Linked DNA regions of Homo sapiens: all the other regions are linked to region 1. The links come from fine-mapping of genetic effects on gene expression. A gene starts in region 1. Each other region holds a variant in brackets. All regions are shown on one strand. Distances are between the middles of the regions.

Region 1 (5,106 bases):
CCTGGAACCTGTTTTTAGAGGACGAATCCCTCACCTACTGTATCCCCTACTACTTCAAAAAAAATTTTTAGAAAATCTTATGACTTCTTTCCTAAAGATGTCTGGGGAAAATTCCATCCATATTGAGATGCAATTAGTTTGGGGGAAGAAGAAAAAATACACTTGACATTTGTTGTAGTTAATGCCTCTTAATTGCTTAAATTGGTGTGTATCTACTTAAAAGAGGACAGTCTTAAATTTTTATTCTGGTGATGTGGATTTTCTTGAAAGTGCATTGAGTATTAATGAAGATGGCGTATAGACTTTTATGTCATTGATGTATTAATGTGACACAACAAAATGGATTTCTTTCCTCATCAGTTTTTGTGTGAAGTTATCTTTAATTGAGGTACCTGTCCTAAGCACTGATAGCCTTTGGTTCTGTCTAGGAAAGGAAAAGAAAGGGACTTCACATTTTTTGAGTAACTGCCATGGGCCAGGCAGTTTATATGAGGGTTTCTCATTTAATCCTCACATCCTTAAGAAGGTGACTATCTCCATAATACAGGTGAGAAAACAGGCTTGTTAGTTGAATAAATTGCTTAAGATCACAGATTATTGGTTGGGAGCAAGGATTCAGACCTTGTTCGCTGGTAGCCGCAGGAAGCACTGAATAGTTTCCAACAGGGCACCTGAAAAATGGTTTACTACTTACCACTATTCTCTAATACTTCTTACCTGATTCAGTTCCTCCAGACACTCCCTGAAAATCTGTGTGCCAAACAGTGAAGTAAAGTACTTTTGCTATTAATGTAATTGAGGTTAAATATTTACGTGTGCAAAATTCGACGTTTTTCACTTGTCATTTATCTCTTTTTTCAAGTTGGCCATTTGTCTTGAAGCTCAACAGAATTGTAATGTTTAGCACTAAGGAAAGGAAAAGCTGTCAAGGAGCAAAAGCAGAAGGAAACCACTGCCAATGTGTGCAATATAAAAATAAGGGTAAAATAATTTTTACTTTATTTGAGACAGGTCTCTGTTGCCTAGGCCGAAGTGCAGTGGTGCAATCATAGCTCACTACAGCCTCGAACTCGTGGACTCAGACGATCCTCCTGCCTCAGTCTTCGAAGTAGCTGGGACTACAGGTGCGCGCCACCACCCCCGGCTAATTTTTTTTTTTTAAGAGACGGGGTCTGGCCATGTTGCTAAGGCTGGTCTCAAACTCCTGTGCTCAAGCTACATTTCCGCCTCAGGCCTCCCAAAGCGCCCAGATTGCAGGCGTGAGCCACTGCGCCCAGGCTGGGTGAAGTAATTTGTAAAACTTAGTCCTGTGGGAGTTATTTTAGCTTAGTCGATTTTCCTCATCCGTGAAATGGGATAACTTCCACCTGGTGCCCACTCAATAGATAAGAAGAAATAATGTCTGCAAAACATTGAGTACAGCGCCTCTTAGGCTTTCTTAAGTGAAGCTATCATCTGTCATTAGCTTTCTCTGACCCAGATGCTACACGCTGTGGGCTAGCAAGAACACGGCTTCAAATAAGGTGGGGAGAATGGCTGTAAGGGGACAGTGTTCCATTAATGGCCAAAAAAAAAAAAAAAAAAAAAGCAGCCTAAAAATCCTTTTAACGTATCCTTAAATATTCACTTGAGGGTTCAACCTTTCTTTCCTTTCTCCTGACCTCTATCGGCCCTAATTAACCTGTTCCTGCCGCCACCTAACTTTACCCTAATTTGGAAAAAGCTGTGACTGCCCAATACTTGTTCCTCTTTTCCCCCTACACCTTTGAGCACTAGAAAGCTCCAGACCCAGAGCTGCTGAGGGGCGGGAGAGGAAGGGAGTCACTAAGCCGCAGCCTGGCCCTTCCTCCCAGGGCAGCGTAAATTCACGCAAACATTGATTCGTTCGCTCAACAAACATTGGGAACCTAAGTGCCAGGCTTGTGCCAGGCCCCAGTCTCTGACCTCATGGAGCCCACAGCCCACTGGGGAACAGAGATTAAGCCATGAAACACGAAAATGAGTGCCACAAAGACGTGAGCTACTAGAGTATCAGGACCGACCTCCTTTAGACCGCTGGATGGGAGAGTCGTTTGTGAGGAAGTGACTTTTAAGCTGAGGCCTGAAGGGTGATCTGAGGGAGCTGCTCTTGGCCATCGATATGCCGCGCGACTCCCCAGGCCCTCGGACCCGGAGCCTGGACCAAGGCTGGGCGGGAAGGCCCCGGGCCAGGGGCGGAGCCACCTCGGCGGCGAAAGCCGGAAAGCGGAAGCCGAAGGCTGCTGCCCGGTGGTCGGCTGAGCGGCTCTAGCCCAGATCTCAGACGGCTGAGTCACTGCATCCCGGCGCGGCCCGCAGAAGACGAGCGCCGCTGCCGCCGCCTCCTCCTCCCGGGCTCCCGGGCTCTCGGGGTCCGGGGCCTTTGCACCTGTCTTTTCCAGCTGGGCACAAAGCCTTTTGCTGTCGCCGTGGCGACTGGAGGCCTTCACTTTTAATCCCCCTCATTTTCCAGTTCATTCTCTGCTTATTTTCTGGTCAGTCCGTGACCCTGTAGGCGGCCTCTGACCGGCGATCGATTTGCCGCCCTCAGGGCGCTGGGCGGCCGGCTGCCTCCGAAGCTGGGGCGGCCTCCGCGGTCTCCATGGTAACGGCCTCTCCGGCGTCTCCGCCTGGAGGGGAAGATGCGGCCTGCCTGGCCCGCCGCCTCGCCCCCGGCCTCACGGTGGGACCCCGGGCACTGAGGACGGAGGTCCCGGGCGCCGGCCCGCGGGGCAACGGGCACTAGGTGAGAGCCGGACGCGGGCGAGCGAAGGAGGCGGGTGCCGGGCGACTCCAGCGGCGGCCCCTGCCCCTCCCCCGCACCCACGAACACGCTCGCCCGATATATTGCAGAGGCTTCTCCGGTCGCCGCTGCGCCAGTTTTTTTTTGTTTGTTTGTTGTGTTTTCCCTGGCAAACAGCTGGAGAAAGAGCAGCTCATGGAGAGGCTGAGAGAAGCGGTTTTCGCGTCCTACCCAAACTGGGAGAGTAACCTTCAGCAGCTGGACTCACCGATTGGTTTTCCTTCATTTTCAGTGAAATCCCATTCTCTGGCTGGAGACACAGATGGCCTCAAATGAGAGAGATGCTATATCGTGGTACCAAAAGAAGGTAATACATATATATATTTTTTTTATTTGTAAAGCATTCTTCCTGCAAAAAGCTCCCACAAATAATATAATGTTACTTTCCCCCGAGTTTAGTAGTGCCAGGTGTTCATGTATACTTCAACATAAATGAAAAAAAAAAAAAAAAGATGTACAAGGTCATTATGTCTTTTAAACCCGGTTCCAGGTCCCAGAATAAGGTTTACAAGCCACCTCCTTCAGGCTGCATACACAATGCCACCGCAATGCTTTGAAAGTTTGCTTCTGATCAAACTGCTTAAAAACAAAAAAGACATGAAACCTGTATGTGCACAGCTCAGATTGATACTATCAACAATCTTATTGAGCTGTTCCTTATCTTTTATTCCTCTCTAGTTTTTCTAGTGCTCTTTTCCTTAAGAAGTGGATTTTTTTTTTTTTTTTTTTTTTTTGAGACGGAGTTTCGCTCTTGTTGCCCAGGCTGGAGGGCGATGGCGCGACCTCGGCTCACTGCAAGCTCCGCCTCCCGGGCTCAGCCTCTGGAGTAGCTGGGATCACAGGCGCCCACCACCACGCCCGGCTAATTTTTTGTATTTTTAGTAGGGACGGGGTTTCACCATGTTGGTCAGGCTGGTCTCAAACTACAGGCGTGAGCCACCATGCCCGCCCAAGAAGTGGAAATATCTTTTAAGGTAATATTAATTTGAAATATTTTGGGCATTGCTTTTGAACTTACTTTTAGGTCCAGCTATTTTAGATTTTTGAAGGAAACAGTCCTTCGAAGTATTGATTTATTCTAACTTTTGAGAAGCATATTTTCCACATAGCATATTGATACTTAATAGGCTCATGACTTTTATGAGGCTTGACTTAATAATGTAAGGATTTCCTTTGCATCGTTTAACTAATAGACTACTCCCTCTTTCAGATTGGAGCCTACGATCAGCAGATATGGGAAAAGTCAATCGAACAGACTCAGATTAAGGTAAATTGATTTCTTTGATTCCGCCTATGTTTCACTGCATTAATATGAAGAGTGGAATTGTACTTACCTGGTAAACTCTGCATTTAACTACCAGTATGGCATTCTTTAATCTTTGAAGGTTATAAGAAAAGCAGTGCAAGCATAATGAGAAGTGACACTTGATTTTTGGCCTCACTATCAGGAAAACAGAAAGGAGTGAGTTGTTCTATGATGAATTAGAGAGCAAATGTCCCATATAAATAGGGCTGGGGTTACTTAGCTCTGGCTAGTTTTTACCACTTGGCAGTGCAGGTCCAAATATTGCCAGAGTTTCAGATTTTTCAAGAGAAGCTGGAAATACACATTTTTATATGAAATATATTGTGCATTTTGTGTCGGATTTTTAAGAGACTCTTCCTTCTCTTCCTCCTCCTCCTTTGCAAGCCAAATAAAATCCATTTGTGGCCTGAATCCAGCCTATGGTCCCCCATTTTATTCAATCACTGGCTTAGAGTATGTGTTTTTGTTTGTTTTTTTGTTTTGTTTTGTTTTTGAGACAGAGTCTCACTCTGTCGTCCAGGCTGGAGTGCAGTGGCGTGATCTTGGCCCACTGCAAGCTCCGCCTCCTGGGTTCACGCCATTTTCCTGCCTCAACCTCCAGAGTAGCTGGGACTACAGGCGCCCACCACCACGCCCGGCTAATTTTTTGTATTTTTAGTAGAGACGGGGTTTCACTGTGTTAGCCAGGATGGTCTCGATCTCCTGACCTTGTGATCTGCTCACCTCCGACTCCCAAAGTGCTGGGATTACAGGCGTGAGCCACCGCGCCCGGCCTAGAGTATGGTTTTAAGTTTTTCAGGTTCTTAAACTTTTTTCTACACAGCTCTTAGAACTGAGAGGATTCTTATTTTATACTAACCAAGTGACCAAAAACTGTTATATAATTCAGAATGCCAGTTTATTAACTTATAATAGGGGAGGAGAGGGTTAAATTATCTTCTGATATTCCAAAGTCAGAGTTGTGGGGTTAAGCCATTTG
Region 2 (5,106 bases), 38 kb after region 1:
CCCTTGTCAGATGGATAATTTAAGACTTTCTCTCATTCTGTGAGTTGTATTTTCACTTGGTTGATTGTTTCCTTTGCTATATAGATGCTTTTTAACTTGATGTGATCTCATTTGTCCATTTTGCTTTGGTTGCCTGTGCTTGTGGAGTATTACTTAAGAAATCTTTGCCCAGACCAACATCTGGAGAGTTTCCCTAATGTTTTCTTTTAGTCATTTCATAGTTTGGGGTCCTAGGTTTAGTTCTTTAATTAACTTTTATTTGATTTTTGCATATGGTGAGAGATAAGGGTCTAGTTTCATTCTTCTGCATGTGAATATTCAGTTTTTCCAGCATCATTTATTGAAGAGACTGTCCTTTCTCTAATGTATGTTCTTGGCATCTTTGTCAAAACTGAGTTCACTGTTGGCCGGGCACAGTGGCTCATGCCTGTAATCCCAGCACTTTGGGAGGCTGAGGCGGGGGGATCATTTGAGGTCAGGAGTTCAAGACCAGCCTGGCCAACATGGCCAAACCTTGTCTCTACTAAAAATACAAGAATTATCCGGGCGTGGTGGTGGGCACCTGTAATCCCAGCTGCTCGGGAGGTGGAAGCAGGAGAATTGCTTGAACCTGGGAGGCAGAGGTTGCAGCGAGTCAGGATCTCACCACTTTACTCCAGCCTAGGTGACAGAGTGTGACCCTGTCTCAAAAAAAAAAAAAAAAAATGAGTTCACTGTAGATGTATGGATCTATTTCCGGATTCTCAATTCTGTTCCATTGGCCGATGTGTTTTTATGCCACTACCATGCTCCTTTGGTTACTATAGTGCTGTAGTACAATTTGAAGTCAGGTAATGTGATTCCTTCAGTTTTGTTGTTTTTACTTACGATAGCTTTGGTTATTTTGGGTCTTTTGTGATTCCATATAATTTTTATTTTTATTTATTTATTTATTTATTTATTTATTTATTTATTTATTTATTTGAGATGGAGTCTTCCTCTGTCATCCAGGCTGGAGTGCAATGGCGCGATCTCGGCTCACTGCAACCTCTGCCTCCCAGGTTCAAGCAATTCTGCCTCAGCCTCCCGAGTAGCTGGGATTACAGGCGCCTGCCACCACGCCTGGCTAATTTTTTTTTTTTTTTGTATTTTTAGTAGAGATGGGGTTTCACCATGTTGGCCAGGCTGGTCTCAAACTCCTGACCTCAGGTGATCTGCCCACCTTGGCCTTCCAAAGTGCTGGGATTACAGGTGTGAGCCACCATGCCTGGCCAATTCCATGTAAATTTTAGGATTGTTTTTTCTATTTTTGTGAAGAATGTCATTGTTATTTTTATAGGGATTGCATTGAATCTGTAGATTGCTTTGGTTAATATGGATATTTTTAACAATAGTCATTCTTCCAGTTCATAAACTATGGAATATCTTTCCATATTTTTTGCATTCTCTTCAATTTCTTTTTTTTGAGACAGAGTCTCGCTCTATCGCCAAAGCTAGAGTGCAGTGGCATGATCTCGGCTCACTGCAAGCTCCACCTCCTGGGTTCATGCCATTCTCCTGCCTCAGCCTCCAGAGGAGCTGGGACTACAGGCACCCGCCACCGTGCCCGGCTAATTTTTTGTATTTTTAGTAGAGATGGGGTTTCACCATGGTCTCGATCTCCTGACCTCGTGATCCGCCCGTCTTGGTTTCCCAAAGTGGTGGGATTACAGGCGTGACCCACTGCGCCCGGCTGCGTTCTCTTCAATTTCTTACATCTATGTTTTATAGTTTTCATTATAGAGATCTTTCACTTCTTTGGTTAATTGCTAGGTGTTTAATTTTATTTGAAACTATTAGAAATCGTGTAACTTTCTTGATTTCTTTTTTAGATTGTTTGCTGTTGGCATATAGAAATGCTATTGATTTTTGGCTGGGCGCAGTGGCTCACGCCTGTAATCCCAGCACTTTGGGAGGCCAAGGCGGGCGGATCACGAGGTCAGGAGGTTGAGACCATCCTGGTTAACATGGTGAAACCCTGTCTCTACTAAAAATACAAAAAAAAAAATTAGCCGGGCGTGGTGGCGGGCACCTGTAGTCCCAGCTACTTGGGAGGCTGAGACAGCAGAATGGCATGAATCCGGGAGGTGGAGCTTGCAGTGAGCCAAGATCACACCACTGCACTCCAGCCTGGGCGACAGAGCAAGACTCTGTCTCAAAAAAAAGAAATGCTATTGATTTTTATGTCAATTTTGTATCCTGCAACTTTAATGAATTTGTTTATCAGTTCTGATAGTTTTTTGGTGGAATCTGTAGGTTTTTCCAAATATAAGATCTTATTATCTGTAAACAAAGGTAATTTGAATTCTTCTTTTCCAATTTGTAGGCCTTTCATTTCTGTCTCTTGTCTGATTGCTCTAGCTAGGACTTCTAGTACTATGTTGAATAACAGTGATGAAAGTGGGCATCTTTGTCATTTTCCAGATCTTAGAGGAAAGGCTTTCAGTTTTTCCTCATTCAGTATGATACCAGCTGTGGGTCTGTTATGTGACTTGACTTTTATTGTTTTGAGGTATGTTCCTTCTATACCCTGATTTTTGAGAATTCTTATCATGCAGGGATATTGAATGTTATCAAATGCTTTTTCATCATCATTTGAAATGATTATATGGTTTTTTTCCTTCATTCTTTTGGTATGATGTGTCACGTTAATTGATTTGTATGTATGTTGAACCATCCTTGCATCCCTGGTATAACCCTACTTGGTCGTGATGAATGATCTTTTTATTTATTTATTTTATCTTATTGTTACTA[A/G]TATTTGAGACAGAGCCTCAGTCTGTTGCCCAGGCTTGAGTGCAGTGGCATGATCTTGGCTCACTGCAAACTCTGCTTCCCAGTTCAAGTGATTCTTGTGTGTGAGTCCCCCATGTAGCTGGGACCACAGGCATGTGCCACCACATCCCTCCCTCCCTAATTTTTTGTATTTTTTTGTAGAGGTGCACAGAAGTCAAGTATTGAGATTTGAGAACCTCTGCCTAGATTTCACAGGTTGTATGGAAATGCTTGGATGTCCAGGCAGATGTTTGCTGCCGGGGCAGGGCACTCATGGTGAACCTTTGCTAGGGCAGTGTGGAAGGGAAATGTGGGGTGGGCACCCGCACATAGAGTTCTCACTGGGGCACTTCCTAGTGGAGCTGTGAGAAGAGGGCCACTGTCCTCAAGACCCCAGAATGGTAGATCCACCAATAGCTTGCATTGTGCACCTGGAAAAGCCGTAGACACTCAACACCAGCCCATGAAAGCAGCCAGGAGGGAGGCTGTACCCTCCCGGTGATACTTGATATCATTTTAATTTTCTGGAATGTTTTAAGACTTGTTTTTTGGCTATAATATGGTATATCCCTGAAAATGATTCATGCACTGAGGAGAAAAATGTGTATTCTATAGCCAGTAGGTAAAATGTTTAGTAAATGTCTGTCAGGTCTGTTTGGTCTGTAGTGTAGATTAAGTCCAATTTTTTTTGTTGGTTTTTCTATTTGGATGATCTGTCTAATGCTGAAAATGAGGTTGAAGTCTCCAGCTATTATTGTATTGGAGTCTGTCTCTCTCTTTAACTCTAATAATATTTGCTTTATGTATCTGGGTGCTTCAGTGTTGGGTGCATATATATTTACAATTGTTTGTCCTCTTGCTGCATTGACCCCTTTATCATTATATAATGACCTTTAACTCTTTTTATAGTTAAAGTCTATTTTGACCAATATAAGTATAGCTACTTGATATGGTTTGGCTGTGTCCCCACCCAAATATCAACTTGAATTGTATCTCCCAGAATTCCCACGTATTGCAGGAGGGAGCCAGGGGGAGGTAATTGAATCATGGGGCTGGTCTTTCCTGTGCTAGTCTCGTGATAGTGAATAAGTCTCACAAGATCTGATGGGTTTATCAGGAGTTTCTGCTTTTGCTTCTTCTTTCTCTTGCCGCCACCATCTAAGAAGTGCCTTTCACCTCCTGCTGTGATTCTGAAGCCTCCCCAGCCTTGTGGAACTGTAAGTCCAATTAAACCTCTTCTTCTTCTCAGTCTCAGGTATGTCTTTATCAACAGCATGAAAATGAACTAATACAGTAAATTGGTACCAGTAGAGTGGGGTGTTGCTGAAAAGATACCTGAAAATATGGAAACAACTTTGGAACTGGGTAACAGGCAGAGGTTGGAACAGTTTGGAGCGCTCAGAAGAAGACAGGAAAATGTGGGAAGTTTGGAACCTCCTAGAGATTTGTTGAATGGCTTTGACAGCAATGCTGATAGTGATATGAACAATAAGGTCTAGGCTGAGGTGGTAACAGATGGAGATGAGGAACTTGTTGGGAACTGAAGCAAAGGTGACTCTTGTTATGTTTTAGCAAAGAGACTGGTGGCATTTTGCCCCTCCCTTAGAGATTTGTGGAACTTTGAACTTAAGAGAGATGATTTAGGGTATCTGGCGGAAAAAATTTCTAAGTAGCAAAGCATTAAAGAGGTGATTTGGGTGTGGTTAAAGGCAATCAGTTTTATAAGGGAAGCAGAGCATAAAAGTTTGGAAAATTTGTGCCCTGACTATGCGATAGAAAAGAAAAACCCAGGCCAGGCGTGGTGGCTCACGCCTGTAATCCCAGCACTTTGGGAGGCTGAGGTGGGTGGATCACCTGAGGTCAGTAGTTTAAGACCAATCTGGCCAACATGGTGAAACCCCATCTCTACTAAAAAAATACAAAAATTAACCAGGCATGATGGTGGGTACTTGTAATCCCAGCTACCTGGGAGGCTGAGGCAGGGGAATTGCTTGAACCCAAGAGGTGGCATTTGCAGTGAGCTGAGATCACGCCACTGCACTCCAGCCTGGGTGACAGAACGAGACTCTGTCTCAAAAGAAAAAAAAAAAGAAGAAAAGAAAAACCCATTTTCTGGGGAGAAATTCAAACTGGCTGCAGAAATTTGCATAAGTAGCAAGGAGCCTAACATTAATACCCAAGCAATGGGGAAAATGTTTCCAGGACATGTCAGACACTTTCATGGCAGCCCCTCCCTTCACAGGCCTGGAGGCCTAGGAGGAAAAAGTGGTTTCGTGGGCCGGACCCAGGGTCCCCATGCTGTGTGCAGCCTTGGGA
Region 3 (5,106 bases), 140 kb after region 1:
ACTCTTTCACACTTAAATTTCTTCATAATTATATCATAATTAAATGAATAATTATAACATAGGTTCAACTGGCATTTATGATTTGGGAACATTCACTACTGACTCTTGGAATGCATACAACTCTCTGAGAGAAAGCAGGAAGCCTGGGGAGACTAGCCGCTAGGAGATTAGCCAAACTATTCAACACGCTATGGGCGATAGTATGTTTTACAGAAGAAAAAGAGCACTATTCTTCTGGCAAGCCAGTTAAGTGGAGTTGGTTAAGAAAGGAAATGCTGTAAAAAAGATGTTTAGGACCTCGAATAGGTCTAATTCAGAAGCAATGGAAATCATATTCTAACACTTCCATAGTACAAATATATTTCAGCATATGCTACAGTTTTCCACTTTAATTAAAGAAGTGAGGCCGGGTGCAGTGGCTCACGCCTGGAATCTCAGCACTTTAGGAGGCCAAGGCAGGCAGATCACGAGGTCAAGAGATAGAGACCATCCTGGCCAACATGGTGAAACCCCATCTCTACTAAAAATACAAAAATAAGCTGGGCGTGGTGGTGCATGCCTGTAATCCCAGCTACTCAGGAAGCTGAGGTAGGAGACTCACTTGAACCCAGGAGGCGGAGGTTGCAGTGAGCCGAGATCATGCCATTGCACTCCAGCTTGGGCGACAAGAGTGAAACTCCACGGCAAAAAAAATAAAAAATAAAAATAAAGAGGTGATATGAGTGAACACCAACAATTAAATACCAAATCATGAGAATTTCAGAACATGATTGTTTTTAGGTAGACTGAATATTACAAAATGTACATATAAATAGTCACACAAGTTGAACATTTACTTTGCCTTTTTATTTCTTTATTTATTTTTTTTTTGGAGACAGGCACTCATTCTGTCACCCAGGCTGGAATGCAGTGGTCCAATCACAGCTCACTGCAGCCTCAACCTCTCAGGCTCAAACGATATTCCCACCTCAGCCTCCTGAGTAGCTGTGACCACAGGTGTGTGCCACCATGCCCAGCTAATTAAAAAAAATTTTTTTTTTTTGTAGAGATGGGGTCTTACTATGTTGTCCACGCTGGAGCTTTGCCATTTGTAAACATTAAGAGTGGTGGTAGAGAAATGGGCAGCAGGGACTAAAATAAAAATTTAAAAATTAAAAAAACACTTTCAAAAAAAGGAATGTTAGCTTTCTCCATGTCACTCAGGCTACTACTACATATCAGTTCCACAACAGACGTAGTTACTTATTAAATAGTTTAAGAGCTCTAAATATGGTAAGTGCCACTGGACATTGTTTGGGTTCTGATTTCACTGACACTCAAGTATGCTTCTGCTTCATAATATGCGGGGGATACACTGTCCACTGAGTTAACTGTTTAACTCTGTGAAAATAAAAATCCTAGGAACTACTTTAAAAAATTTATTTAGGTACTGATATTTTACATATTCTTTTGAAAAACAACTAAAAATTGACACTCAGAAAAGAATAAACCTGTTCAGAAAGAACCTTGGCTCACTTTCACTTTAAAGTCATTGGCTAGAATGACTCACTTTGCCACCCAGGCATTAGAACATAAAAAGTAGTAATTTGTATTTATACCCTTTGTAATGTGTGGGAGAGGAGAGTAGACGTATGCAAATGAGTAATCCTTTTCCTAAAAATTTGACAAAAGAATATAAGATTTACTGAAGGAAGTTATTGTCTTCATTATCTTAGACTATCTAGACTAAAATGCCACTCAAAAAAAATCAAAAAATAAAAAAGTGAAAATACTGTCCTTTTCATTTAATTACTTATACCTACACTATTATTAAGACACAACAAATTTTGTTTTCCAAATAACTAGCTGTGGGAAATAAGAGAGGAGAATATTACAGATTATCAGAAAGAAACAAAGCAAACAAGAATGATTAAATATTAGTACACAATTTGACACATTTTCTGTATTAAAATTTTATGTCTAATATCTGGATTTAAAAATTTATCTCAACAAAATATTCTTTCATAAAGAGTTTTAGATGGCTGGGCATGGTAGCTCACGCCTGGGATCCCAGCACTTTGGGAGGCCGAGGCGGGTGGATCACTTGAGGTCAGGAGTTTAAGACCAGCCTGGCCAACATGGTGAAACCCCATCTCTACTAAAAATACAAAATTAGGTGGGTGTGGTGGCGCATGCCTATAATCTCAGCTACTGGGGGGCTGAGGTACGAGAATCACTTGAACCTGGGAGGCAGAAGGCGGAGGTTGCAGTGAGCCAAGATCGTGCTGCTGCACTCTAGCCTGGGCAAGAGTAAAACTCCGTCTCAAAAAAAAAAAAAAAAAA[G/AG]TTTTAGTTGTGAAAGCAAGTATATATTTTGACTTTGTCATCTAGGTGCATCAAGACATTTAATGCTTATCACCCTGATCTAATCACTATATATTACGTGTACTGAAACATCACTACGTACCCCCAAAATGTGTATAATTATATGTTAATTTTAAAAAGACATGTAATGCAATATAATCAAGACCGCATTTCTAAATATATAAGCATATTTATAGCTTATGCATATTTATATTTATGCATATTATAAGCATATTACATTTTTGGAAAAATTTTATTTTAAAAAATAACTTCATCCATTTCAGAATCCCATCCTCTAAAATAAATACAAAGAAAAACTACCACTGCAGTTGGTGTTACTACTACAAGGCTCCTGCCAAGAGCAATCATCGTGCCATCTGGTTTGACAAACTAAGAGAGCCAAAGAGTAGCCATTCAAGTAACAGCTTTTTATCTCCATCAGTAAACTCACTGCAGATTACTATGGTCGAGATTCAAAACCTAACTAATCTGGGAATCAAGCCACACTCCACAGCTCAGCTGACTCCATACTAATGTGCATCTTGAGTACAGTCTGCTCCTTCTTAGTCTAATACAAAACCCTCCTGTAAAATGAGCTCATTCTGGGAATAATCATACAAAATCATGTCGCTGCTGCTGTTGCTTCTAATTCAGGCTATTTCATGTACCTCCCTGACAACTAGGAGCAGGTCGCTTCAGGATTTGCCCTAAAGTTGCTTTAATATTATATCTTTGCATAATGGGGACCAGATCATTCAGCTCAAGGTTTTATAACAGGCAAATGACTTTCACCTTTTGACCATGTATTCAAATTCACTTGGAATGGATAATAAAGAGAATGAGAATCATTATCTCAGAAATGTTCAGCAGTGTCAATGGCAAATAGCTGATTAGAGCCCAATTTAAATAGACTAAACTTTGAGGGGAAGAAAAAAATCCTGCAAAACCTTTTCAGTCGGCCCCCAAATACTCCTTTGATGTGAAAAATGGTTGTTTCTTCCTTTAACAAAATAAGTCTTAGGAAAAAATAATAATAAAAGAGCTGCTGTATACTTTTTACATCACAGTATCAGTAAGACATTAAGTAACACAATGGAAACAAAATTAGCATAGCTTTCAAAGGAACCAAGATATTGAAATTCTAAAGTTATATACTTAAGTGTCAATCTAATTGAGTCATTTCCTTAGGAGACACATTTAATTTTAAGAAGTCATTCCAAAAATCCCTCTAACCACAGTGACTCAAGTAACAACCTGCACAATAGAATAAAGACTACAGTTGCAACAGGAGTCAGAGATACTTACTTTAGGGATAACTACCAGGAAATGGCATTGGTTTATGCCTATAAGTGTTGAAACATTAAGAAACAATTATAAAATTAAAGATGATTGTGTTTGTTACTTTTTCAGGTAATAATAACATTTTGTCTTTGCTACCTAGGCAGCAGGTTTAACTCCTAGTCTCCAGGTAAATAGTAATGTTTCTGATAGAAGTATTTGCCTGCTGCTAGACGCTTGAGGTCAAATTCAGTGTTTAGCATCTGGAAAGAAAGCAATCCCAATGGTCATAACATTGTAGCAATTAGATAAAGAAAAGAGAAGGCAAAATTAGACATTGATATTAGCTTAATTTCTCTGGCTAACATAGGCAGGTGTCTGGCACTCCTCTCCAATATATATTTATGTTTAAATTTAACCATAGCAGCTGCCTAAGAAGCAACTTTCACCCCTAAAAAGAATACTAAGTTTTCCTTGAATAACTCCTTAAAAGAGAGCACACCTTTAGGTGTATGCTTCAAAACTTCAGATAATTATGTTATAATGCCCTAAAGATCTTCCACTGCTTTCAGAAGGATACAGTGGTAGTGTTGGAAATGACCTTGATAATTCATCTAGTCTGTTGCCCTCATTTCAGTTTTCTATCAACTGACTTTCTCTTTAGAGGCTGTAGTAGTAACAATACCATCTCTAGCTATTAATTGTCTAGGCAACTTCCCCCTTATTCTCTATATTTAGAAATTCAAAGCCAACTTCCAGGAAGCCCAAGGTCAATGAAGCAAATGCTCACTGCCCCTACCTTTTCATTCCCCTAGTTGAAAAACTCAACAGCTGGATCACAGAAGCATAAAGTGCTGTATCCAGTATTCTCTAAAGCTATATGCTGAAAGGAAAATATTTGGGAGAATATTAACTGAGGTAACAAACTTACTCAACATAGTATGTCCCATACTGAGGGTCCTCTATTTTCTCCCAGCCATAAGGAAGCTCTGTAAATAAAGAAAATTGAGTGAAATGCCAGATTCAAAACTGACAGAAAAGAATTCACCAGTGAGTGAATTTATTATTTCATTATACTAATATTTGGGTGTCAGAAAGCTGAGGGCTCACTTTCAAGGAACAAACACAATTTAAGTCTGAGTGGCTTCTTCACCAGCCAGTGAGAATTTCAGCAAGCAATCAGAAGCCCAGAACAGAAGATGGCATTAAACAAAAAGGTGTTCATATGAACCACAAGCCATAAAAATGCTAATAAAAATTACTGTGTACTTCTTTCATTTAAAAACCTTGATCATGCTGACACAAGACATATTTACCCTTGTAGTCCAATAGAAGAAGCAGGTATCTGTTCAATTTTTTACTATTATACATAGTCATTTTTGATGTTATGTTCAGACCCACTTCTCCTCAAAGGAAACCCTAGCCTTGGACTTTTGTCATTTCAAGTGAGCAATCTAGATTTGCTTAAAACCTACAAAAGTACCTGCT
Region 4 (5,106 bases), 22 kb before region 1:
CTTGTTTGGCATTAGTTTCCTACAGTTGGTGAATGTTTTTTTGTTTTATCTATTTTTTTCTCTCTTTTTTTTTTTCTTGTCAGCCTTTTCAGGTTGAAAGTTGGTGCATGTTGAATTTGTGGTCATAACTGCTGTTCATTGTTATGCTGTTAATTATTTAAATGTATCACAAACATTTGCATTTATTAAATTTTTAAATGCAAGTGATAGACTGGTAATCAGCAGTTCTTCTTCTCCCCCTCCACCCCTTTTTTTTCTTTTTGCCAGAGTTTGTGGTTGATTACTTCATTTCTAGCCTTAACATACAGAAATTCAACAAATATTTATGACTACATACCAGGCACTTTGTATTACAGATATATAATATTGAATAATACAGATTGTTCTCTTTCACAAAGTTTGTATTCAAACATATTGCTTGATTTCTTTTGTGAGTGGTTTAAATTGGGGGTTGGCAAACTTTTTCTATTAAGGACCAGATAGTATTTTCTGCCCTGTGGCCTAAAATTTATGTAAATAATTCAAACAACCCAATAACAACAACAACGAAATAATCTGATTTAAAAGTGGGCAAAAGACCTAAATAGACATTCTGAAATTTGAAGACATACAACAGGTATATGAAAAAATGTTCAACATAATTCATCATCAGGGAAATGGAAGTCAGAACTACAATTAGATATCACCTCACCCCAGTTCTGGCTGTTAACAAAAAGACAAAAAATAAATGCTGGTGAGGATATGGAAAAAGGAGAACTTTTATACAGTTAATGTCAATCTAAATTAGTACAGACATTATGGTCAACAGTGTGGATGTTCCTTAAAAAATTAAAAATAGAACGACCACATGACCAAGCAATTCCACTTCTTGGTATATGTCCAACTCAAGGAAATTTAATCAGTATGTTGAAGATCTGCATTTCCATGTTTATTGCAGCACTATTCATAACAGCCAGTTTGTTTTTCTTAAAAAATAGTTGTCCTTGACCATTTTTGAAACGTTATTCTTACATCATTTTAATTGCATTACTTCTTAACTCATCCTTTCACAATTTCTTTAGCTAACTCTTCCTCCTGTCTGTCAAATATCTGTTTTCCTTTAAGTGCAGTTCTTGGTTCTGTCTCTTTCTATTCTTTCTCTCAAGTCTTAGTCACTTAAAAAATTATATGTTATAGACAATTTCCAAATCTATGCATCTATTCCTTACCTTTTTTGATCTAGTTATAACTCCAAATCTAACTTACCTAAAATCTGTAAATGTTATGTACTTTCGTTCTTTGAGCTTGAAACCTTATTTTGAGTCATTTTATACCATCAAGGAAATATAGGAGTTGTAAAGGTGGACAATAACATGTGAAAACTTGTGGAGGCAGCAGAAATTATTTAGAATTTGCGAAATGTATATTTAGAATGTGGCAAATGTGGAGAATGTGGCAAATCTTGGTCTGTTATTCCCTTGGAATAATAGATCAGGAGGGGCTTTGTCTTCCTTAAAAAGGATTTTCTAGTTTGATGCTACAGGTAATATGGAGCTACTAAAGGATTTAAAATGGGAAGGTTGAATGATAAGATGTTTTTTCCTAGATTATTTGTAGCAGTATGTAGGATGGCTCTTGGGGATAGGAATCCTGAAGCAAGGATACTGGTTAAGAGGTTTTACAATTAGGTGAGAAATGATAATTTCCTGAATTAAGGCAGTGGTACTGCAGATTTAGTTAGAAGGATAGATTTTGATTTAAGTGATGAGGAAGAGGGATTTATCAATTCCTGATTTAGGACCTGAGAAAATGAATATTATTAACCGGCGAAGTACATACAGAAGGAGAAAAAGAAGGTTTGGGAGGGGAAGGGAACCTTACAAAAAAACGAGCTCTGTTTTGTAGGTATTAAATTTGAGGGTGTCTGTGGGCTGCCCAGGAGGCATTTGTATGTTAAGATCTGAATCTGAGGCAGAGTTTTAAGTTAGAGATGTAGATATGGAATGTAGTAGGGTACAGGTGGTAGTTAAATCTGTAGTATAATTGAAACCACCCACAGATAATATGTGGAATGAAAACTGGGCCAACTCTGCAACAACCACGTTTTGGAGAGGAGGAAGCCTGGAAAGGGAAATCAAGAAAGCAGGTGATTGCAAAGCATTCCTTGAATTTGGTTGTGAAGAGGTCATCAGTGATTTGTTTCAGGGGAGTGGTATGGGCAGAAGCCTGATTGCAATGATATGAGATGTGAATAAAAGGTGAGGTGAGGCAATAGAGACAGGTACTACAGACTAGTATTACAGAAGTAGGATTCTTATGTGAAAAAGGTATATATATCTTGGTGCTTTTGATGGCAAGTTGCAGGATAGTCAATTTTAAAATGGGCTTAAATGATGAAAGAGATTTATTGGCCTATGGAATGGAAAAGTCCAGAGGTGGGATGGATAGTTTGAATGTTTCAGGCCTGGGGTTTGCAGGCAGGGCTGGTGGAAGGACTGGGATAGAGGATGAGAGTGTGTTTATGAGAGAGGGATAAACCTTGAGGTTTAGACTAGATATGGAAGCAGCTGAAAGAAGGAGGGGACTGATACTGAGAAAAAAACGTAGGTCACAGAAAGCTAGAGGTCTAATTTCATGTAAGTAAAGGAATGAAAACAGGA[A/C]GGTTGTGGTTTACTAATAAGGGCTTTCTCTAGCTAGGCTAAGTTAGCTACAGTTATCCAAATAGGCTTTATACATTGCAGCTTTCAAAATCCAGTCCTAGTATTTTGTAGCATAGTTGTTTACTTGATGGCTCTTCTGCCAGGAAATAAAAATTGAACATTGTTAATTCTTTGTCACTCATGGATACAACATTGGTACTCACACAAAGGTGTGAACCTGAAGATCCTCGTAAGATGAGAAGCTTTTCTTTGTGTATATATGAAAATAAACATGTTGGTCTTGGCGAAATTATGAGGTCGCTATATTTTGTGGTCATACCCTTTCTTTGTCTTCTGTTGCTCCCGCCTTCCTCTTTTTTAGGTTTACTTTTTATTCTCTTTGCAAATAGGAAAAGATGCTTCATATTTATTCATGTCACATGTTGATTATTCTAGGTGTTTACCTTTCTAAGTTGTCTTCAAGTTCAGTGCTGTTGAGTTTAGTGGTGTTTGAATTAGGTAAACTTGGAGTGGTGTGATATAAGAATATTAATTCAGTCTCACTTTGTGTGTAAAATTTAAAGTAGTATGAATTCCTTCAAATTAATAATGCATTGAGTTGTATAATCTCAGGCCAAGTAAATTGAAAACTGCCACATGGCAGTGTACTTCTTTAGGATTGGTCTTGAGTTTTGGCTGCTTTAAATTAGGATAGGTCTTAAGAGTCACTTCTGGCTGGGAAAAAGATTTTAAAAAGATCATGATAGGTCTTTAGGACATTTGTCCCATAAAATGCCTGTATAGAGAGAAAGCCTTTCTTAGTAAAGGAATTTCTGAGACTGGGAATAGTTGGGAGAGGTGTTTGGGGGAGACTGATATTTCTTTTTTTTTTTTTGAGACGGAGTCTTGCCCTGTCGCCCAGGCTGGAGTGCAGTGGCACGATCTTGGCTCACTGCAAACTCCGCCTCCCATGTTCAAGCAGTTCTCTGCCTCAGCCTCCCGAGTATCTGGGACTACAGGCATGCACCACCGTGCCTGGCTAATTTTTGTATTTTTAGTAGAGACGGGATTTCACCATCTCGGCCAGGCTGGTCTTGAGCTCCTGACATCATGATACACCTGCTTTGGCCTCCCAAAGTGCTGGGATTACAGGCATGCACCACCGTGCCTGGCCGAGACTGATAATTTCTTATTACCCCTAAAAGCATATGATTCCTAGAAATGTTGCTGAAGGTTAAATCTACTTTAGTTGTTTTAGAGTGCTTAGAAAGGTTAGAATAATGATTTAAAAAGACTTACCTTTCTTCCCCTTCCTTATCTCTATATCCCATGATGAGCCTTTGTTCCATGCTGCCACCCCTGGCTTTTTATGGCATGATGATCATACCAAACTTATGGAAAGTAATTCATATGAATATATATAAAGTAATTCTGGCCTGGGTGGCTGCTGCTTAAGAATCATCTAAAGTGATCTTGGGGGGAGGATTTGTAAGGAATTAAAAAATCCCTACCCCTGCTATTTGAGAACAAGATCTACAGCCTTTTTTTCTGTGTATATATGTGTGGGTGATGTTAAATTGTCTATGGAAAAAAATTGATTCTAAAAATGCTGCTAAAGAACAAATGGTGAAGAATTGTGGTAAGATATCCTAGATGGTCATTTATGTAGACTGTTTCCTATTAAGGCAAAATAGGTGGTATTTAAAACATGACAGTAGATTCTTTAAATTTTTTTTAATGTTCATTAAAGAGCCATTTTATATAAAGGTACAGCTATATGTTAGGCTTTTAAATTTAATCTGCATTTTAACAGAGGTAGAAAATGCTAGGTAACTGATCTGAAGTGGAAATTCTGGTTAAATACAGCATTTCTAGTCTAGTCCATTGCTATGTACAGGATCCATCTCTCTATCCTTGAGAAACTCTAAATTGGAGATTACATAAGATAAGAACATACATGAAATGACTAGAGGAATAGTATCAGATTGTATGGAATTAATGATAGATTCCATTCAGATGCTAGATAGGATGCTCTGGGCTGCATATTTATGTAGGATATGTCCTAAATTCACTGGAGAGTTGATATAGAGAAAATATATGTTGCTCATAGGTAACATTAGACTTCAGAGAAGGGAGAGATCATGGAGTGTGACCAGAAAGACTTCTGGAAAAAAAGAGCTTTTGAACTGCTCTTTGAAAGATGGATACGATTTGGGTTGACAGAAAAGAGGACATTCCAGATTGGGCAGATTCAAGAGAAAAATCACTGGAGGTAGAAATAAGTTTGTCATAAGTTGAGTAGAGAAAAAGATTGGGGCCAGGCTTGGTGGCTCACACCTGTACTCCTAAAACTTTGGGAGGCCAAGGCGGGTGGATCACTTGAGGTCAGGAGTTCAAGACCAGCCTGGCCAACGTGTTGAAACCCCATCTCTACTAAAAAAATACAAAAATTAGCCAGGCATGGTGGCGCACACCTGTAATTCCAGCT
Region 5 (5,106 bases), 100 kb before region 1:
GTAGAGATGGGGTTTCATCATGTTGGCCAGGATGGTCTCGATCCCTTGACCTCATGATCTGCCTGCCTTGGCCTCCCAAAGTACTGGGATTACAGGTGTGAGCCACCGCGCCCAGCCTGTCCATCTGGTTTTATAATGAAAGAATAATAATCATAATAGAGAATGCTTCTATACCTCTTACAGACACTGTTCTAAACACTCATATATAAACTCATTTGCTCCATTGAGGAAGGTACTGTTTTCATTTCCATTTTATAGGTGAGGAAACAAACAGAGAGGTCAATTAACTTGCTCAGGGTCACATAGCTAGTAAGTGGTGGAACTGAATTTCAATTTCAGGTAGTCTTGCTTTGTCATCTGAAGTCATAAAAACTTTGGAGTCATATAAATCTTGGTTTGAATTTAAGTTATGCCCATGATTAGCTATGTGACCTTGGATTAAGTCAGTAAAATGTGGGAATAATATTCACTTTGAAGAACTGCTGTGAAGATAATAAGTATATAAACTTCCTGAGACATAGTAATACCCAAATAATTTATTTCTCCATTGTTAAACAGTTATTTCTAGTTTTTCATGATTATTGATAACACTAATATGAATATATTTTTCCATGTGGTTTTTCCCTTCTTTTGGATTAATCCTTAGGCTAGATCCCCAAAAATGTTATTACTGGGTCAAAGACTATTAGCATCTAATTGGTTAAGTATTACCAAATGTATTTCCAAAGGAGTTTTTCTAATTTGCAATATATGAATTTATCATCTTCTCTACCACCTTGCTAGACTTAATAAATATAAAAGAGAATAAAAGATGAAAACATTTTGCCTACTTACTATGTACTAGGCAATCTGCTAAGTGCTTTGCCGTACGTGATCTCGTTTAATCGTTACAACTACCCCAAGAGGAAAATATTATGTTCATTTTTACCCATGAAATGGAAAAGCCCGGATTTGAAACCAGTCTGTTTTTTTTCAAAGCCTCTTAACCTCTGTACTTAAACTGTATCAGGTAAAAATCATGACTTTTTTTCTGATATAACTAGCATAAAATAGTACTTTATTATGTTAATTTCATTCATTGGATTTCTGAGCCTTAAAATGTTCCATGATTATTTTAAATCTGCATTTCCTTATATACGTTTTCTGTTCATCTACTTTCCACAGTAACAACAGCTAATCCATAGAACTGTGTTCCAGACTCTGTGCTAAAAGTGCTTCACAAATAGAACTTCATTTACCTCCCAAAGAACCTTTTAAAATGGCTATCAATGTCCTACATGGTGTCTCTCCAGCTTCTTATAGCATGCTCATTTTCTTGTCCTTGCCATGCTTCCTCTGCCATAGGGCCTTGCACACATGTTGTTACCTCCGCCTTGAACATTCCTCACACTCCTCTTTACCTAGATAACATTTGGTAATTTTTTTTTTTTTTTTTTGAGACGGAGTCTCGCTCTGTCACCCAGGCTGGAGTGCAGTGGCACGATCTCTGCTCACTGCAACCTCTGCCTCCTGGGTTCAAGTTATTCTCCTGCCTCAGCCTCCTGAATAGCTGGGACTACAGGTGTGTGTCACCATGCCCGGCTAATTTTTTGTGTTTTTAGTAGAGACAAGGTTTCACTGTGTTAGCCAGGATGGTCTCTCGATCTCCCGACCTCGTGATCTGCCCACCTTGGCCTCCCAAAGTGATTATAGGCGTGAGCCACCATGCCTGGCCTTTTTTTTTTTTTTTTTTTGAGACAGGGCCTCACTTGGTCATCTAGGCTGGAGTGCAGTAGTGTGATCATGGCTTACTGCAGCCTCAACCTCTAGGGTTCCCATCTCAGCCTCCCAAAGTGTTGAGATTACAGGTGTGAGCCACCATGCCCGACTAATAATTCTTTAGATCTCAATTTGGTGGTCAATTCTTCAAAGAAAGCTTTCTTTTCTTTTCTTCTTTTCTTTCTTTTTTTTTTTTTCTGGAGACAGGGTCTTGCTCTGTCACCCAGGCTGGAGTGCCGTGGCTTGATCATAGCTCACTGCAGACTTGACTTCCTGGACTCAAGTGATCCTCCAGCCTCAGCCTCCCAAAGTGCTGAGATTACAACCATGAGCCACCACACCTGGCCAGAGAAAGCTTTCTGGACCTCTTTGAATAGATCAAATCTTCTATTGTAAGTTCTTATTAGCACCATTTGTTATTTTTCATAGCACTTACCACAATTTCAGTTTTTTGTTTGTTTGTTTGTTTGTCTGTTTTGAGATGGAGTTTTGCTCTTTTTGCCCAGACCAGAGTGCAATGGTGCGATCTTGGCTCACCGCAAGTGACTCTCCTATCTCAGCCTCCCGAGTAGCTGGGATTGCAGGCAAAGTTGCAGTGAGCCGAGATCGCGCCACTGCACTCTAGCCTGGATGACAGAGTGAGATCCCATGTCAAAAAAAAATATATATATATATATATATATTTATTAAATATAAAGGATTCATTGAATCCTAACAGAAAGAAGATACCTAGTTCTGAAGGCCAGGTTTAGGTGCTAACAGTTTAAACTATACTAGAAATCAGACTGGTACTATTGCAACTTCTGGAGATTCATTAGAAGACCAGAGACATATCAAAGATCTGGCTACATCTTGGTTCTATAAAGGAGACATAGATACATCCTGGTTCTGTGTATATTATAGTAATGATACTAACCAAACAGTTATCAACAAGGTACTTCCTACAGAGCAAGTGCACAAACATCTATGAATTGACACTACTCATTCCTGTGAATCAGCCTATCACTTGAACATATTTATCAGCATTTCTTGACCTTTGTGCACATTAAGGTGCAATTTTTAAAAATGCCACCACCAGAATAAATGTATCACATCACCTCTGAAGCTGATTTCTCTAACACCATCTCCAGCCTCTCACTAGGGACCATCTAGTCCTACATTTTCATTTACTCACAGGACACTTAAAACACATTTCTTGGCTGAGCGCAG[C/T]GGCTCACGCCTGTAATCCCCACACTTTGGGAGGCTGAGGCAGGCGGATCACTTGAGGTCAAGAGTTCAAGACCAGCCTGGCCAACGTGGTAAAACCCTGTCTCTAATAAAAATACAAAAGTTAGCTGGGCATGGTGGCAGGTGCCTGTAATCCCAGCTACTCAGGAGGCTGAGGTGGGAGGATCACTTGAACCTGGGAGGCAGAGGTTGCAGTGAGCCAAGATTGCGCCACTGAACTCTCTGCTGGGTGACAAGGCAAGATTCTGTCTCAAAAACCAACCAACCAACCAACAACACACACATTTCTTGCCATTTTCTCACATTTTATGTATCTAAAGTTGAACCTCTTGGTTTACTCACCCCAATTTAGCTATTGCCTACCCACCTACCCATTTGCCCCACTATTGCACTGGAAACTAACCTCGATAAGTTTGTCAGTCTTGTTGAAGATGATTGCATTGCACGCTCGTACAATTCAGTCTTGTCCTCCATTCCTACTGGTAGTTCTCCTGATTACTGGATTTAGAAGCCTGAGCTCCTAATGCCATTCCTTACCACTTGTACTTCTTCTGTCCTGATGGAGGCTTGGTATAATACTGACCTATATTTGCAAGGCACTGAGGAACTACCTTGCAGAGTTCTCGAGACAGCCAAACTTTGTGTTCTCCCACCTAGCACAGGAGGGCCAAGTTTAATTTTCCTCTCCCTAAAATGTATCTAAAATGCTACGTCTTCTATCCAGTAATGTAGTCCTTCAAGGCAAAGATATCGTGGTCTTGTGCTTTCTTTTACTTTCTGTTCTTTTTTGGGAGTGACTTTATTTTATTTACTAGTCTGTGAGAATAACATGCAAATGACTCAATCCGAATTTCTAGAATCTAATACTCCTTGTTATACTGGCCAGGATCCCCATTCTCCTCTCCTTTCTTGAAACGAAAGGGGTAGTATCATCTACAAACCAAATGAACTTACTATTAGCTTATCAAGCACACACAGAATCTGGTTTCTCACACATTCCACCCTATTTCAGGGCCCACGAGGGATGTTGAGCTCTCTCTTCACTTTATTCTCTTTTTTATTTTTATTTTTATTTTTTTTGAGGCGGAGTCTCACACTGTCACCCAGGCTGGAGTGCAGTGGTGTGATCTCAGCTTACTGCAATCTCTGCCTTCCAGGTTCAAGCGATTCTCCTTGCCTTAGCCTCCTGAATAGCTGGGATTACAGGGGTCTGCCACCATGCCCAGCTAATTTTTTTTGTATTTTTGGTAGAGACGGGGTTTCACTATGCTGGCCAGGCTGGTCTCGAACTCCTGACCTAGTGATCTGCCTGCCTCGGCATCCCAAAGTGCTGGGATTACAGGTGTGAGCCACCGCACCCAGTCTCTTCACTTTATCCTCTTGGCAACTATTCCCCTGACTTCTCTTGATGGTACTTCCTCTAGGGAACTCACACCCCTACCTTGTAGTTGGCAAAGAAATACCTTCACCCTTTAGATCTCATATCTTTTCTTCACAAACTTAAACCCATCCCCATGACCCTGCTTCCTCTTTTATACCCTTTTGCTTTCTACTTTCAGGGTTCCTCCTTTTCTGGTGTAGTTTATTACTTTTTCTGCCCTAATTTTGCCCTAATTTGTTCTTTCTTGGGATATTGGAGCCCGGGAGTCTGGCAGGAAGAGAGGTGGAAGAGAAAAATGAAGCCTGCCGGGCGCGGTGGCTCATGCCTATAATCCCAGCACTTTGGGAGGCCGAGGTGGGGGGATCACTTGAGGTCAGGAGTTCAAGACCAGCCTGGCCAACATGGCGAAACCCTGTCTCTACTAAAAATACAAAAAAAAATTGGCCGGGCGCGGTGGCTCACGACTGTAATCCCACCACTTCGGGAGGCCAAGGCGGGCAGATCACGAGGTCAGGAGTTCCAGACCATCCTGGCCAACATGGTGAAACCCCGTCTCTACCAAAAATACAAAAAATTGGCCAGGCATGGTGGCGGGCGCCTGTAACCCCAGCTACTTTGGAAGCTGAGGCATGAGAATTGCTTGAACCTGGGTGGCAGAGGTTGCAGTGAACCGAGATCATGCCACTGCACTCCAGCCTGGGCGATAGAGCAAGACTTTGTCTCAAAAACAAAAACAAAAA

Alleles and levels. Alleles are on the strand shown, and positions count from the first base shown. SD is a standard deviation of normalised expression in the study named. Not every link is listed here.
For the expression in NK cells of the gene that starts at base 2,301 in region 1, allele G in region 3 goes with a lower level than allele AG (moderate effect, 0.54 SD a copy in Gilchrist 2021).

The links.
Region 2: its variant is fine-mapped to the expression of PHTF1 in whole blood (TOPMed, PIP 0.96).
Region 3: its variant is fine-mapped to the expression of PHTF1 in NK cells (Gilchrist 2021, PIP 0.90).
Region 4: its variant is fine-mapped to the expression of PHTF1 in whole blood (INTERVAL, PIP above 0.99).
Region 5: its variant is fine-mapped to the expression of PHTF1 in whole blood (INTERVAL, PIP above 0.99).

The regions. Positions count from the first base shown.
Region 1 is chr1:113,756,681-113,761,786 of GRCh38, reverse strand. It overlaps PHTF1 (putative homeodomain transcription factor 1), which reads left to right and starts at 2,301. Exons shown (of 19, transcript NM_001323043.2): 1 at 2,301-2,764; 2 at 3,054-3,128; 3 at 4,032-4,088. The coding sequence starts at 3,084. RefSeq lists enhancers at 1,849-2,428, 4,707-5,106 and silencers at 2,579-2,898, 3,532-3,661.
Region 2 is chr1:113,718,777-113,723,882 of GRCh38, reverse strand. All of the region lies in intron 7 of PHTF1 (putative homeodomain transcription factor 1), which reads left to right. Among named protein-coding and RNA genes, the nearest start is that of PHTF1, 38 kb to the left of the region's middle. The variant A/G (reference allele first, on the strand shown) is at 2,773.
Region 3 is chr1:113,614,102-113,619,207 of GRCh38, reverse strand. MAGI3 (membrane associated guanylate kinase, WW and PDZ domain containing 3) reads right to left here. Exons shown (of 21, transcript NM_001142782.2): 7 at 4,550-4,607. Among named protein-coding and RNA genes, the nearest start is that of PHTF1, 140 kb to the left of the region's middle. The variant G/AG (reference allele first, on the strand shown) is at 2,323.
Region 4 is chr1:113,778,427-113,783,532 of GRCh38, reverse strand. The region is part of intron 2 of RSBN1 (round spermatid basic protein 1); the gene reads left to right. Among named protein-coding and RNA genes, the nearest start is that of PHTF1, 21 kb to the right of the region's middle. RefSeq lists a silencer at 2,553-2,662 and an enhancer at 2,773-2,822. The variant A/C (reference allele first, on the strand shown) is at 2,640.
Region 5 is chr1:113,861,242-113,866,347 of GRCh38, reverse strand. The region is part of intron 1 of PTPN22 (protein tyrosine phosphatase non-receptor type 22); the gene reads left to right. All of the region lies in intron 3 of AP4B1-AS1 (AP4B1 antisense RNA 1), which reads right to left. Among named protein-coding and RNA genes, the nearest start is that of PTPN22, 7.9 kb to the left of the region's middle. The variant C/T (reference allele first, on the strand shown) is at 2,968.